Regions from separate parts of the Homo sapiens genome. Here region 2 is linked to region 1. The links come from fine-mapping of genetic effects on gene expression. Tissue or cell type: pancreas. Region 1 holds a variant in brackets; the other region holds the start of a gene. All regions are shown on one strand. Distances are from middle to middle.

Evidence for each region. PIP is the estimated chance that this variant, and not a neighbour inherited with it, causes the effect.
Region 2: SUCO starts here. The variant in region 1 is fine-mapped to the expression of SUCO in pancreas (GTEx, PIP 0.98).

What each region holds. Positions count from the first base shown.
Region 1 is chr1:172,453,178-172,461,082 of GRCh38, forward strand. It overlaps C1orf105 (chromosome 1 open reading frame 105), which reads left to right. Exons shown (of 7, transcript NM_139240.4): 4 at 3,238-3,312. Among named protein-coding and RNA genes, the nearest start is that of PIGC, 13 kb to the left of the region's middle. The variant A/G (reference allele first, on the strand shown) is at 4,541.
Region 2 is chr1:172,529,019-172,536,923 of GRCh38, forward strand. It overlaps SUCO (SUN domain containing ossification factor), which reads left to right and starts at 4,132. Exons shown (of 24, transcript NM_014283.5): 1 at 4,132-4,479. The coding sequence starts at 4,418. RefSeq lists enhancers at 3,331-3,440, 3,501-3,750, 4,361-4,520 and a silencer at 4,071-4,240.

The DNA.
Region 1 (7,905 bases):
AGCAAGTCTGAGGTAGAGTACAGCACAGATCAAAGATTGCTTTTTACCTTTAAATGTAAAGTGTAAAGGGACAGGATTAGAGCATCCGCCTCTGTCTTTTTGAACACAAAGACCATTATCGGTAGGGGAAGGGAGACTTGGAGAGTTTATATGATTGACAAAAGTCACCCAAGTTGTTTGTGAGCCAGGACTGGAACAGAGCTTTTTGGGCGTCTAGCCAGTGTTCTTCCCCAGTGCATTACATAGAATGAATTTGTTGTACTACAACACTAATGTTCTGTAACGTTTCCCTGAAGACCGTGTTACAATAGTGATCTTCATTTATATATGTATTTTTCGTTTTATATATTTAGGTTGATTGTGTCTATATTTAGACCTCATAATTTAAATTGCTTACAATGACTCATTCATTTGCCCAATGTTTGTTGAATACTTGCTGTGTGCCAGGTTCTATCATAGGTTCTAGGAATACAAAGATGTGTAAAACATGATTCTTGCTCTTAAATATAATAACTCTCAGCCCGGTGGAGGAAATAAACACATTTAAAATCAAGAATAGTGCAAATACAAAGAAAGCTAGACCAAGTTTATGATGCAATCAAAGAGGCAGGCACCCAACTGAGGTTAGGAGGGTGAGAAATGGTAGCAGCCCAGGAGAAAGGTTTTCTGAGGATGTAACACCTACACTATGTCTTAAATGAGTAGCTATCAAGGCCAGGTGGGACAATATATAAGCATTTCATCCCTCAGATTCTAAGAGATGACAGTCATTATGTTATGGGACTCTGTACTCACATTTACAGTTGTCATTAACCTAGCAAGATCTTGCAATGCACTTTGGGGATCTTGCAAATAATATCTGTTGCTTGATTTGCAATGAGCTCTGAGATTCCACTTCCTATAGGGTCTAATAGTAGTCTTAGCAGAAACCAGAAGTCTGGAAAAAGGTGAAGGAAATAATTTCAGTGAAGAACTTATATCTCTACTAAAAACAAACCTGCCCAAGAATTCTTCCATATCTGCCTCCCCTTGTCCAGGTCTTCCTCATCCCTTCAGACTGAGTACAAATTCCACTTCTAGGAAGCCTTTCCTGATTTCTCCAATCAGAAGTGGTCTCTCTGTTTTCTGAAGGCACAGAGGTATTAGTGCCTCTTGTATGATATCTAGTGTGTCCTACCTTAATTGCAGTTTCAGAAATGTACCTCACTCTCATACCTCAAAGATGTGAGGGATGGAGGGAGGAGCTGGAGCTTCAGGGGATATCACCCCCAGGGGTATCAGGAAGACATGGTAGAAAGTTGAATCAGCCCAAAGCAGAGGAGTCAATATCCACAGACATTTCCTCTCTAGTCTCTCTTCTCACTCCATTCAACCTCCCACCAGACAACCTGTCCATCCCAACCTACATTCACTTACCCGAAGCTGATTTGCTAGATTATTCTTCCAGGTTGTTGTATAGTGTTTCCTGGGCTTGCAACACCCTCACCATCCTTGTTCACTCCACAAACACCTACCCAAGCATTGCCTGTTTTTTTTTACCCTTCTCAGACCCTTCCCTCTCTGCCCCACCCCCAGTTAAGCTCAATGACCCCTTTCAGCTTCACTGGAGCCTCGATATATTTCTGTTGTAGCACCTTCAACACCATCATACTTCTTGATGTATAGGCTACTGGATGGTGAGCAGCTTGAGGTCACAAACTATGTCTTATTTATTTAAATGTCTCCAGTACCTAATGAATGGGTAAATGAATGAATTTGTATTCTTCTTTTGTCTTCCTTAGAAACTTCCTTCCAGAAACTTTGCTTTATTCGTCGGTATGACCCCCGTCACAGCACCCTTTACTTGGTAGCCTCACAATAGATGTTTACTGTTGAATGAATGAATCTAGTTATTCACACACATACTTTGACATACCAACCCACAACATTGTAATACTGAGTTGATTCTTTTTAGAATGCCCTATAAAAATGAAGTGTATTTTAAATGTTTCTCAAAAGAATCCAACTTTGTTAACAGTTTTTAGCCCTCAAACCCCCCATGATGCATCACCTAAGTGCCATATGTCTCTCACAGGATGAAGCTACTTGCAGAACAATCTGGCAAAGGTCATCCTAGGAGCACACCTCAGGAACTCCTCACTTTCTGTTCCTCCTCTTTCTGTTCCCCACACTTCCCAGGGCAACAGGAATGGGTCAAGGCACACCATGTAGTGATGGGCCAGCAAGCGGATCAAAGGAAAGAGAAGACTTCAGTCAATAGTCTTCTCACTGTGGCTTTCCTCTTCCCCATATTCTGCACTTTCTGTGACCATATCTCATGACTGATGTCAATGTGAATGAGGAAGGTTAAGAGAGAATCCCAAACATAAGTTTAGCCTCAAGTTCCTATATGCTTCCTAAGCAAACTTTTATCAGAGATGCAAATGAGAACCTCCTGAACCCAGGTGTAAATGCTCCAAAGTCCTCTCTTTAATGCTTTTGCAGAAATGAAGTCAGAATAAAAACCAGTGGTTACAGTGAGCAGACACGGTGCCCCTCCCCTTCCTCCACTGATTGCTTCTTCACCTACTGAGACAGCCTCTCTTTCCCAGAGGATTGAGGGGACTCAGGACTCACACACAAGCTTGAGTTCTGCTTGTGGCTTCAATCATTCTGCTTAGGAGGTACAGAAGGGCCAAATGGTGCTGGACCATGGATGCATGAGAGCTGTTTCTGGCCCAGAGTTAAGGCATGAGAAAGGAAGGCGATGCTTAGGAAAGGCCCGTGAAAAAAAGATTTGCAGAAGAGAAGTCTTCTCTTCATTCTTTCTTAGGCCATCAGAGATCCTCAGTCTATATGGTGGAGCCTTTTTATGAAATGGAAAAAATGGCCCACCTATAGGAGAATGCAACCCCTCAGACACAGGTGCTCAGGCTGGAAAGTAGAGACCCCACTGAATTTCAGGCCCCAGCCATCTCTGCCAGCTGTCTTTACATGTATACCACTGCATGCAGCAGCCTCAAGACCACCACCTAGCCTATGTCTCACTCCCTCCTGCCTAAACTCTCGGTACCTACCAGCTGCAGCACACTCCAGATTCAACACCCACCCTGGATGGGGCTGAGACCAGAGTGCCCATCTCTGTTTTACGGAAGGAAAAACTGTTACCTCTCTCACCCCTCCACTGCTTTCCTACATCTTTGCTGCCCTACATGCCCCACCATTTCCTCACCTCTCTCTGTCTCTCTTTCCCCTCAGGCCAGGAGGAACCAGTGTGACTCCATGCTGCTCAGAAACCAACAGCTGTGCTCCACATGTCAAGAAATGAAAATGGTAGGCAAGGGGGAAGACAGAAATGGGCACAGGCATCTCAGGGTGCAGCACTGCCCTTCCCAGCCAAGCCCTGTGGGGAGAGATAGTGACGGGGCCCGTTGCAAGGAGGGCCTAGATAAAGGCTGCCAAGGAGGAACTGTTGGTCCTGGGAGCAGCATCGACTGACAGAACATGATAAACCTTCTCCGTTTCAACAAGCTAAAGGGTAACCAGGATAGATGGGCCAGAGTAGAGATGCAATGAGACACTTCGCCTTGGGCTCCTAAGTAACTACAGCCTCTCAGAGGCTTAGGGGATTATGGAGCTCCTTCTCCCTCCTTAATGTAGCCCCCACACAACACATAGGCTCACACTCATTTCTCCACCGTTACAATCAGGAGACAAACAGCTTCATCTTTGGGTTTACTGTTAATTTAGGTAGCACCTCAAGAGAAAGACTGGGGAGAGAGTCTACAGTACTTTCTAGGTAGTCAGGGGCGGTGTCACCTGCTTTGGGTATTTGTAACATATAGTGGAGAATGGTGGTAGGGGAGGAATATTAGGAAAAGAAAGAAGGAAAGCAAGGGAGATGTGGAGGGAACAAAGACAAACTTCTGCCATGCCATCTATCACAGTTGCTGAATCAGAGGCCTGATTCAGGAAGGATGCTAGACTAGGCTGGAGTTAGGCCTTCGGTAATTTAAGAATTAGAGTTAGCGCTGGGATGGTTGTTAGCGTCAGGGTAAGGAAGAGGCTTTGGTTAAGGGTTAATTTAGCAACATGGTTAGGTTTGAGGTACGAGCTGGAGAAGGGTTTCTTCAACTCTGATATCCTATAATTCTCCTTTGACTTGGGGAGGAAGGTGGGGCTAAATGTGTAGGCTAAACGTGCTTTAAAAGAATGGAAGAAAAATAGAAGATATAAGAAAAGCTCCTTCACTGAGTTCATGGCAAGTCTTAGGTCCAGTCGGATGTGAAAGAGAGTGGCACTTTTGTGAAATTTTTATGTGGGATTTACAAATTTAACTGAAGCTACCGGCAAAGCTGCACCTTGATGTTGCCATCTATGTTCATTTTCTACATAATTAGGGTCACTGTGTTAAATATTAGCATTGGCTGGAGTCTGGGAAACTAGGATTGGGATTTCTCCTGGTCTTATTCCTGGAATCCCTTGTGTCCACATTTAGAATGCACCAACCCCAGGCCTAAGCTGGCCTTGGCCAGCTGGCACACTTGGGACATCAGCAGCC[A/G]TCCTCTTTCTCAAGACCTCTTCTCTGACCTTTGCCCTTGTCCAGGAATGATAGAAGTGGAGCCACATGCTGCAATTTTACCATTTATTGAAGCTTCTAAAAGGAAGGGCTTCAAACACAAAAGTGCCCAGGGACCCTTCTGTACTGCTGTCAGAACCTGGTGATAAACTACAGAAAGTTAGAAAATAAACATGAAATATCCTTGCCTCACTCTATGCAGTAATACCTCAAAGTCCTCCCAAGGGGAGGGACTGCAGGTCTGCTGTAGTCACTGTGATACCCCTTCTTTCTCAGCAGTGAGTTGAATAGAAATACTGGGGAATATATAAAAAGACTCCTAGGAATAGAAGGGAACTTCCTCAACCTAATAAAGAGCAGCTTGAAAAACTAACAGCTAACACCCTACTTAATGGTAAAAGACTGGATACTTTCCCCTAAGATTAGAAACAGGGCAACAATGTCTGCTCCTGACACTTCTACTCAACATTTTACTATACATTCTAGCCAGAAAGATAAGAAAAAGAAATAAAATCCATCCACATTAGAAAGAAAGAAGTACAACTAGTCTATTTGCAGATGATATGCTCTTATATAGCGAAAGTCCTAAGGAATGCACAGAAAACTATTAGAGCTAATAAATGAGTACAGCAGTGTTGAGGATACAAGATCAGTATATAAACCTTAATTTCTATTAATAGCAGTGAACAACCCAAAAATGAAGAAAACAATGCCATTTGTAATAGCATCAAAAATTATTTAGGAATAAATTTAACACGAGAAGCACAAGAGCTATACAATGAAAAGTATAAAACATTGTGGAAAGAAAATTTAAAAGGCCTAAATAAATGGAAAGAACCCCATGTTTATAGATTGGAACACTTAATATTGTAAAGATGAATATACTCCGCCAAACTGATCTACATATTTAATGTAATCCTCAAAATCCCAGATGCCATTTTTATAGAAATTTGCAATCATATCTTAAAATTTATATTAAAATGCAAGAGATCCAGGATAGCCAAACAATCTTTAAAAAGAAGAACGAAGTTGGAGGTCTCATACTTCTTGATTTTAAAACTAACTACAAAGCTATGGTCAGGACTGTGTGGTACTGCCATAAAGATAGACAAATAGATAAATGGAATAAAATTGAAAGTTCAGAAGTAAATTCTTATGTTTATAAACAATTGATTTTTGACAAAGGCACCAAGACAGTTCAATGAGGAAAGAATAGTATTTTCAATAAGTGGTACGGGGGCAGCTGCATAGATACATGCAAAAGAATGAATTTGTACCTCTTCCTCACACCATGTACAAAAATAACTCAAAATAGGTCAAAGAGCTAAATGTAAGACCTAAAACCATAAAACTCTTAGAAGAAAACATAGGTATAAAGCTTCATGACCTTGGATAAGGCAATGGTTTCTAAGATAGGACACCCAAAGCACAAACAACAAAAGGATATAGATAAATCAGTCTTCATAAAAATTTTAAACTTTTGTTCCACAAAGAACACCATCAAGAACACGAAAAGACAACCCAAATATTTGCAAATCAACAGATGAAGGATTATGTCAGATAAGGGACTAGTATCTGGAATATATAAGGAACACTTAAAACTCAACAATAAAAAGGCAAACACTCTAGTTGAAAAGTGAGCAAAAAGTTTCAATAGACATTCTCTAAAGAAGATCTACAAATGACCAATAAACACATGAAAAGATACTCAACATTATTTGTTGTAAAGCAAATGCAAATCAAAACCACAATGAGACACACTTTCCATCCACTAGGATGGTTGTAATAATAATAATAATAAAACGGTGGATAATAACAAGTGTTGGCCAGGATGTGGAGAAATTAGAAGCCTCAAAAATTGCTGATGGGAATGTAAAACAGTACAGTTGCTTTGGAAAACAGTTTGGGAATTCCTCAAAACCTTAGACACAGAGTTACCATATGACCCAGCAATTCCATTCCTAGATATGTACCCAAGAGAACTAAAAACATATTCACACACAAAATTCTACAAGAATGCACATAGCAGCCATATCTTAATAGCTGAAAAGTGGAAATAACCCAAATGCCTAGGGCTTGATTAATGGATAAACAAAACGTTGTCTATCTATATAATAGAATATTAATCATAAAAAAGAATGAAATACTAAAACATGCTATAACATGGATGAACCTTGAAAACATTTTGCTAAGTAAAAGAAACCAGATGCAAAAGATCACATATTATACTGGTTCCATTTATATGAAATGTCCAAAATAGGAAAATTCAGAGACAGAAAATAGACAGTGGTTGTCAAAGATTGGGGAGAGGAGTGAGTGAGAAGCAATTGCTAATAGGTATGTGGTTTCTTTTTGGGGTCATGAACTGTTCTAGGAATAAACAATGGTGGTTGTTTTACAACTTTCTGAATATACTAAAAACTACTAAATTGCACATTAAGATGGTGACTTATGATACATGATATCATAAACACCGATAAAAAGAAATTAGCACTAAATAAAAGCACAAAATAGATGAATCTCAAAAAAATGTAAATAGGACCTGGTTATGTAACTACTCATATTCCTATGTAACCTTGGGCTAGAAGCTCAATCATTCAGTGCAGAAGAAATACCTGCTGACAGTTATGGTTGTGAATCACCAGTGATATTTGCCTTGGTTTTATCTAGGCTGTGTTTCATCATGTCTCTGCTCCAAACAGCTCATCTTCCCCTTAATGCACCTATTCTGTAGTCCTTCTGTTATCTGCATTACTCTCTAATTAACACCTTCAAGCCCCTTAAAAGTAGGACCATCAAGCTAGACAACTGTAAACAGATATTCTCTAACATATATTAAAAAATAGTTTCAAAATAAATTAAGTTTATTTCAACAAATATTGATTGATTGTCTGCCATGGGCCAGGTACTTAGGTAAACTACAAAGAAAAAAAAAGAAATACATAAGACCTGTCTTTAAGGAGTCAACAAATAAATAAATAATGACAACAGAATGTAATCAATATAAACAGAAATAGATCTGATGGGGAGTGAAGGGGCAGTGAAAGTAAATATCAAGGAAGTCTTCCTTGAAGAAAAAGACTATTCAGGGTTTTCAAGAATGAATAGGAGTCTCCCACAGTACACTTTTTCTCAAAAACAAAAATCCTGTCTTTGGCAGGCAGCTTTGTTCTGATGCAGCCCCTGTAGCACAGTTCATTCATACAATAGCGCTAGCTGGATTTAGGGGATTTAGAACAGCAATCATGCTATTCAGGAGGAGTTACAGTTTCCTGCATCTTCCCTTGGAGCAGAGTCAACTTTAGATAAATTTTTGAATAAAGCAGTCTGTCTCTGGCACATTCTCA
Region 2 (7,905 bases), 76 kb after region 1:
AAGATAATGTTTTAGGAAGCTTCATCTGAGAGCGTTATACAGGAGGTACTAAAGGACGCATCAGTTACAATCCCCAACATGCTGCTTCAGTTGCTACTTTCTCTCCCTATTTTGAATCTTGTACTTGTAAATTCTTGCTAGATACTTCCACCAGAACCTCAATACTGTGCTTCCAAAACCATACTAGTCTCTTAAATTGTAAATCTGCAACTCCTGACTTTCCTACTCATATAATGGCACATACGTTCTTAGAAATTGGACCATCTTTGATGTCTCCTTCTCTGTCACCCACATGTAATCATTCCCTTCCTCTAGTTGATTCCATTATGAGCCTATTCAATTCATGTATCTTCAAAATAAACATATGTTAACGCAGTGATAGAAGACTGAATTTGGGATCACAAAGTAGAATTTTTAAAAAGGGAAATCTTACCTTTTGTTATTTGCAGTAAAAACAGAACCGTGCATGCCAACATTGCACTCTGTGATCTTCCCGCCCTCAGATCTTCCCGCCCTCAAGAGACTGAGTTCTCAGACTGTACTAATAAAGCAATCTATGTCTTCTTCTGATTTCTACCTTTACCTCCTGAAGTGGCCAAATTACCAGTGCTCTGTTAAGGTAGATTAGGCTAAGTAGTTAAGGCTCTTTTCAGGTAGGTAGTAACTAAATAAAGAAGGTATATGCTATTCTACACACATATTTATATATATAAAGAAGATGATCGGGGGGACAGTTTTAAAAGTTCTGTTTATACTTTTTATGCGGTTAAAATGTTAAGTGCTGATTGCCACATTCACCATTTTTCCATCTTATTTAGTCTCTTTTATTGTCCATTTGTCTGTTTTCCATTCCCCAACCTTTCTTTGACTGATTTCCAGGAAACTTCTGTTTTAACTGACTTTTACTCTGGAAGCATCTAAATGTCATTGGTCTCTAAGATCCTTTGGAGACATATAGGATCTCAGCATTTTGTAATATTGAAAGGAGCAGGTAATTTTTCAACTAAATCAAAATACATAAAAGCTTGCTCATGAAATACCACCATCTTAGACAACACAGTTCTCTTGGGTGTCTTAAATATGATTTGTATATGAGATAAAGAACAAACGAGATAGCCAGAAGGGGTTGGTTCCTTTTCTAAGGTCTGCTTGTTCTCTTTTACCATAAGCAAACAGAGTATCTGATCTTTATCAAGGCAGGGACTTGAGCTGCCCAGAGTTTCTGGTTTAGTCACCCTTTTAGGAATGGGAGAACTCATGTTCATTGTGCAGTTTAGGCCCTAGTGACTTGCTGAATAATCCAAGGATCTGCAGGGCAAACGAGTTATCCTGTGTGTGGTCAGTGCTTTATAGATTTTATTGAATTGGGAGATTCTGTTACAGCAGGGTTTCTCAACCTTGGCACTTTTGACTTTTTGGCCAAATAATTTTTGTTGTGGAGGGCTTTCTTGTGCACCGTAGGATGTGAAACAGCATCCCTGGCCTCTACTCACTAGATGCCAGTAGTACTTCTCCAATGTGACAAGCAAAAAATGTGTTCACACAATGCCAATCTCACCCTGGGGGGAAGTCTGCCCCAGGTTGAGAATTACTGTATTATAGTTAAGGGGTGGTTGATAGTGGTTACTTAGCCTAAGCCTTAAAAGATTATATATATAATTAAATATTATATATGAAAGATTATACATTATACATGCTCTTTTTCTATATTCTTTCTTGCCATTTTTGGCATATGTTATACTTTTAAGTATGGTGACATTCATCTATACTAGTTTTATTTTATATAACTATTACTCACTTTCTTATACTTGTCTATTGAGTTGTAAGAAAATTTTCTCTGTTCTTTTTCTCATTATATTTAACAGATATGTGGAAAAATGTCTACCAGTTCTTTAAAGGTCAGCTCTATGGAACTTCTATTTATTTCATCTGAAGTCTTAGAATAGGAAAGAATCAACACAAATATAGAAAGTCACGTGAAGAAGCTAATTTATGGGGAAAATGAGTTCAATTTTGTGCAGGTAAAATTGGAAGTGATAGAATAATATGTCCAGCAACTACTTGAAAAGAGGATGGGATATAGGTTTAGGAGTCAACAGTATAGTTGAAAATTAAAATTGCTCAAGAGAAAAATGGAAAAAGCTCGGAGTAGTGAAGGATTAAACCTTAACATGAAACCATGGAAATGAAGCTGCAAAAAGAGAAAAGAACATTTATAGATTGAAATAGTAAAAGCTAATAATTGGATGATAATTAGGTGAATGGAAAGCCTACCACGGGGGTATTAATAAAGCTCCAACTGCAGGAGAAGGAAGGAAGGAAGGGAGGAAGGCAGGCAGGCAGTCAAGGAAGGAATGAAAGAGAAAGAAAAAAGTAAAATTATTTGTACTTGCATGTTTCAAAAAATCATTGCAGGGACTTGGTGGAAAATAAGTGGATGGGTTTGTGAGTTTGGGATGAGAGGGTTAGGAGATGTAACTTGATAACTTCCTAGATTTGAGATAAGCACGTATTCTAATATAACTTCTTTGGCTGTGATGCACTGAGGATCAGCTGAGGGATACCTCAGCTGTTTCCTATCCTGAATAAAAGTTCCTGGAGTAAGAGGAAAAGAGTGTCCAACATGGTAAAGAATGTCAATTTATCCCTACCCTTTCATTGCCCCTACTTTCTTTTAAACTTGCATATTAATCATTTGATACTGTTTTTGGGTGAGATAAATACTTGCTTCCCGCAATAGGTGACAGATGAAAGGATTTTATTGTCATATACTAAGAGTGGCATCAGCAGATAAGTGGAACTGTACCTAATTACTGCCAGAAAAGGCAGTTCAGGGTGAACTCCTTTAAAACAAAAATTATCACCCTTTGTATAATTTCTCTAACATCAAATTGACTTATATCCAAGAATCACAGAGCGGATCAAATCATTCAGTTCTTTGGGACTATAATTAACATCCAATTCAACTTAGAAGGTTCATAAGGAAATTCCGCGGCTCAAAATTAGGCGTTAGGTGGGCATTTTACTGAGGGTTTTTTCCCTACGGCCACATGAACAATAAGTAACCCGTCCTTTAAACATTTTTCACACTAAACATTATGCCATGTTCCAAGGCACAGACCATTGCAGCCTCCGTCCCCTCAGCGGCGTAAACACTTGGAATGGGCATGCTGCCCCGTTACTTAGTATTGAGAAGTGGTCACTTTTTGCTCTTCTTAGGTGAGTGTAAGCGACTGCCTTCCCCACTTTAGGTGAACCCCAGGACTTGGAGCGTCTGTGGGTGCTCCTCTAATGGGGACAACTCCTCCCTTCCGACTCCATCGCAGAGAACCCAAAGTTCGAAACCAACAGAACGAAAAGCAACGAAGCACACTTAAAGTGAGGAACCCGGCAAGCGGCGAAATTCTTGCTGAAGAGAAGAAAAAGCGAAAGGTTTTCCGCTGCAACCAATCAGATGAGAGGATTCTTGGCACGCCCCTTTCTATCTACCAATCAACATCTAGCTCAATGGGGCAGTCCATTGCCACAGGGAAAGGGCTTGGTGCAGCTTCCCTCACAACACACACGTCATTCTAGGCCATTCCACGAACTGTGCTCAAAAGAGGAAAACAGTGCAACAGTTCCAAAGCTGATCAGTCTCGTGGTGAGCAGCGAAACTATAGACTTCTCTAACAAAACCATGGATTCTAGGAGGGACTGGGAAAGAGAAAAACGAATTCTGGAAGGCAAACTACAACTCCCAAAGGCCCTTGCGCGGACTCAGCGCGCGAGGGACGAAGGGCGGTCCACTGTAAGGGGAAATGCTGAGGATCACTGGGCTCCTCCCGGCTTTCTGAACGCAAGCCAGCAAGTGGGCGGGACCTGGGGCGGGCGGAGCGGCGAGAGCATCTGCTCCTGCGCTTTGTGGTCTCCTGCCTCCGGCTTCTCCGCCTGCGACGTCGAAGGGGGCGTGGCCTGCGCAGAGGCTGGTGGGGGTGCGGGCGCCGCGGGACTTGGGTGACGCGTCCCTTTCCAGCTCAGCGGTGTGTGAGGTGTCGCGGCCCCGCCGGCGATTGGCTGTTGAGAGGCGAGTACGCGGCGGCCGTTGGTCGCTGGCCTCACGGAGCAAGGCCCCCGGCGGGCGGGGAGGATATGGGGCGGCAGTGGCGGCTGCAGGAGGCGGGCGTGGACGAGCCGGTGGCTGCAGCGGCGGCGGTCCCCGGAGTCCTGTGAAGCGCCCCTGTCCGCGCCTCTGTGGGGCCCTCAGAGAGGGCTGCCAGGACGCGAGCCACTGAGGAGCCGCTCAGCCAGCGCCATAGCCCTTAGGACTATCGGTCACATTCTCGCGCTCCTGCTCCGGCTCCTCCATCTTGGCCTCGGCAGTGGCGGCTGCCGGGAGGATGTGCCGCCTTCTGGCAGGGGGAAGAAGGAGGAGAAGATGAAGAAGCACCGGCGGGCCTTGGCCCTGGTCTCCTGCCTCTTTCTGTGCTCTCTGGTCTGGTGAGTAGCCGCGACGACAAGGGAGTTCCCGTGAGGGGAGTAAATGGGAGGGAGCAGCCCAGGTCACACCCCCTGGTCATTTTGGCTTTTAGGGTCCGGGTTTCCAAGGCCCCCGTGGAAGGGACAAACCGATTACTTCTCGACTCTCCATCTGACTGGTCTGGTAGTGCTCTGTGCGGAGATTTTCATGGTGTATTTTGGAATTTACAGAGACTCAGTGGGAGAGAGAGAGGTGCCAAGGTAGAGGGAACCACCAAGTGCCTTTGTACTCAGTTCCTCTACCCCTTGGAGACGGTGCAGGGTTTGGGGTGGGTGTTCAGATTGATGGTAAGTAAGTTGCTCCGATTTGCCGCCAGTCTTTGCGTTCTTAGTGTGGTAAGGGGATAAAGCACGTCGGATGTGATGCGTTCCGGACGTGCGATTTTAAAACGTGAGTGGTCATGAAGGTAAGAGTAATGTATAAGCAGTAGTTCTCCTGGACATTTCTCGCACAGCGTTTGATCCCAAGTACACTCGGGCCGCTGTTTTTGGAAACTTGGGGGGCGTGTGTGTATGTGTGTTATGAAGCACTTTTTCAATTGGTTTGGTGGAGAGGGTGTCTTAGATGTAGTGTGTGTAGTAGTTTTTGGTAATGCCCCTTAGTGACGGGAAGGTAAATGCTGTATTTTCAAGGCGGGAAGAGTGCTTTGTCCCTAAAGCACTCCTTAAGTTTTACGGAGTTTCTGTTAATCCCAGGCACTTCTGGAGTTTTTTGAGGAGCAGAGAAAGCTTGTAAGTCGAGGGACTGCTGTCACCGTACTTGGAAAAGCCATTCTTTCCTCCCAGGGAATTTCTTCAAAGATGTGTGACAATTGATGACTGAAAAGATGCTTCTTCAGTCTAGGCGATTTGCTGTTTGTTATATTAAAATAGAAATTAAGTTTCCTGTTTTGCTTATTTCTGCAAAGCACCAACACTATTTTCATTTTTATGGATGCCTTATGGATTCCAGAAGCACTGAAATTGTAGAGTTGTTGCTCACATAAAATAATACATAAACAAGGGGAAGAGAAAACACTCGCCTGGCTGAGGGATTTTTATTGGAAGAATGATAGAAGTTTTTGAGAACAAAAACAATTGACTTATTACCTTTCATTCTGAATCCTTTTAATACCCGTCTCCTGTTTTTAATAAAATCCTCCCCTTTCTACTTACTGTGTTGGGTACGGAGAAGTGCCTGTAAGAGATAAATCCACTCACCTCATTTTAAATTTAAATTTGTAGATACTGAAGCTTGTATTCATTTCCATCTCTTTCTGGGGCTGCCTAGTTATATTTGTAGACTGTGTATTTTCTTTCCTCTTTCTTCTTGGTCTTGCCCATCTTTAAACCATGTTATTCATCATCAAAAGTTTCTGAAATGGCTAATAAGGAAAAGGTGAACACTTTCATTCAAGTTTAAAAACACACCAGTATCTCTGGCTTTTTTTAATTTTTTAATTGGATGGTGTAAACGAAATCAAGCAATAGAATGTGATTCTTACAATCATTTGTAAATTTAAGTTAACTCTGCTTCTATTTCTTTTGGGAATTTCTGGCTATCTTTTGATTAAGCTAACCCTCAGTATGTTTTCTCACCTTCAATCATTAGCTCTAGTGAAGAGCTAATGAATTTCCCTGTTAGGGAACAAATCGGTTGGCCTGGTATTGAAAGTAGTAGTAATAAACTTCTGTCAAGTTTTTTAACTCCTAGTGAGGAAAATGGATGTGGAGAGTTTAAGAGTGTGAACATTTTAAGAAACTTTAGCTTAAGAAACTATTGGGTTAGTATATTTTGAGATTTGTTTAGACTGCCAAATTTAGAGACATTTTAATTATTCTTTAGCAAAACGATTAAAAGGCATTAAAATAGGACATTAAGGCTTAAAGGGTTTTTTAAAGGGTGATGATGATGAATGAGATTGGGGAAGAGGAGTGGTACCTGGTGCTGATTGGCAAAGGGTATGTTTTTTCTTTGAAGCCTCTGCTTTTGTGCCAAGTTGGAATTAATGGCACTTAATGGATTTCTAACTTTTGCTGCAATCTGGTGTGGTATTTCTTTTCCCAACAACCTCATTCCCTTTAACAGAAATGGCTACCAACAAGTCCTAGGGTTAGATAAAACGTTTGCAAGAGTTGATGAGTGCCTTTTAGTAGCCACTTTTGTCTCTTTTGTTATTCACAAATTGTCTCAAAATTTTGTGATCCGTTTCTGTTTTGTACATTGAGTGCTGTATGTCTGTTCTACAGTATTCTAGTTTCTGAGGTTTCCCCTCTCATGCTACCAATATTACTGTGTTATGTTTACTATCATAATTTTGTAGATCTTGATTATGTCTCCCCTCTGCTTTTGTCTTGTAGCCTTGAGTACTAACCTTAGATTATGTTTACAGAAAAACCATTTCATCTATGTCATTATTAATTTTTGTTGCTGTTTTTTCCTTTTGCATAGTTTATAATTTTTGATCAAGTAGTATAGAGTATTCTAGGCATAAATGCACTATAGCTGCAGCACAGAGCAATGATAGCTAATATTTGCTGACAGCTGTGTGTCAGACACATGATGTTTACTTGACAATAACACCTTTAATCTTTATAAGAACCCTATAAGATAGGTATTATTATTAACTTCCTTTTGCATTTTACATGTGAGGAAGTAGAGAGGTTAACTTGGCTAAGTTTAAGCAGCTGTTAAGCTTCGGAGCTTAAATTTGAACCTAGGCAGCACAGGCTCCTGAGTACTTTATAGGTCAGAGGCCTGTATTTTATATATGTGGCTCCATCATTTACTAGATATGTGTTCTTTGACTTGTTATGTAACTTCTTTGAACCTTAGTTGTTATATCCTCAGAATGGGGAAATTGATCCATTCATACTTCACAGGGTTGTTAGGAGGATGAAATAATACAAATGACAGATCTTTGTAACACAGTAACAGCGTATTATGTAAATATTTCATCATAACATTATTCAACCACATTTTGTTCTCATACCTACTGTGCCAGATGTTTTTATGAGCACCGAAAATCCAAGATAGAGGGTCACCAGCTTGTCTTGGTTTTAACACTGGAAGTCGCATAACCTAGGAATTCCCTGCATTAGTTTCTTATGCCTGCTGTAGCAAATTGACACAAATTTAGTGGCTTGAACAACACACATTTATTACCTTACAATTCTGTGGATGAGAAGTCCAAGATATGTCTCACAGGGCTAAATAAAGTTAAGATGTCAACTGGGCTCGTTCTTTTTGGAGGCTCTGAGGGGAGAATCTTTTTCTAGAGGCCACCTGTATTCTGTGGCCCCTTCCTCACATCAGCACTCCAACCCTTTTTTCAGTCCTTATGTCTACTAATGACTGGTCCTCCTGCCTCTTCCTCTTATAAGGACTATTGTGATTACATTGGGTCC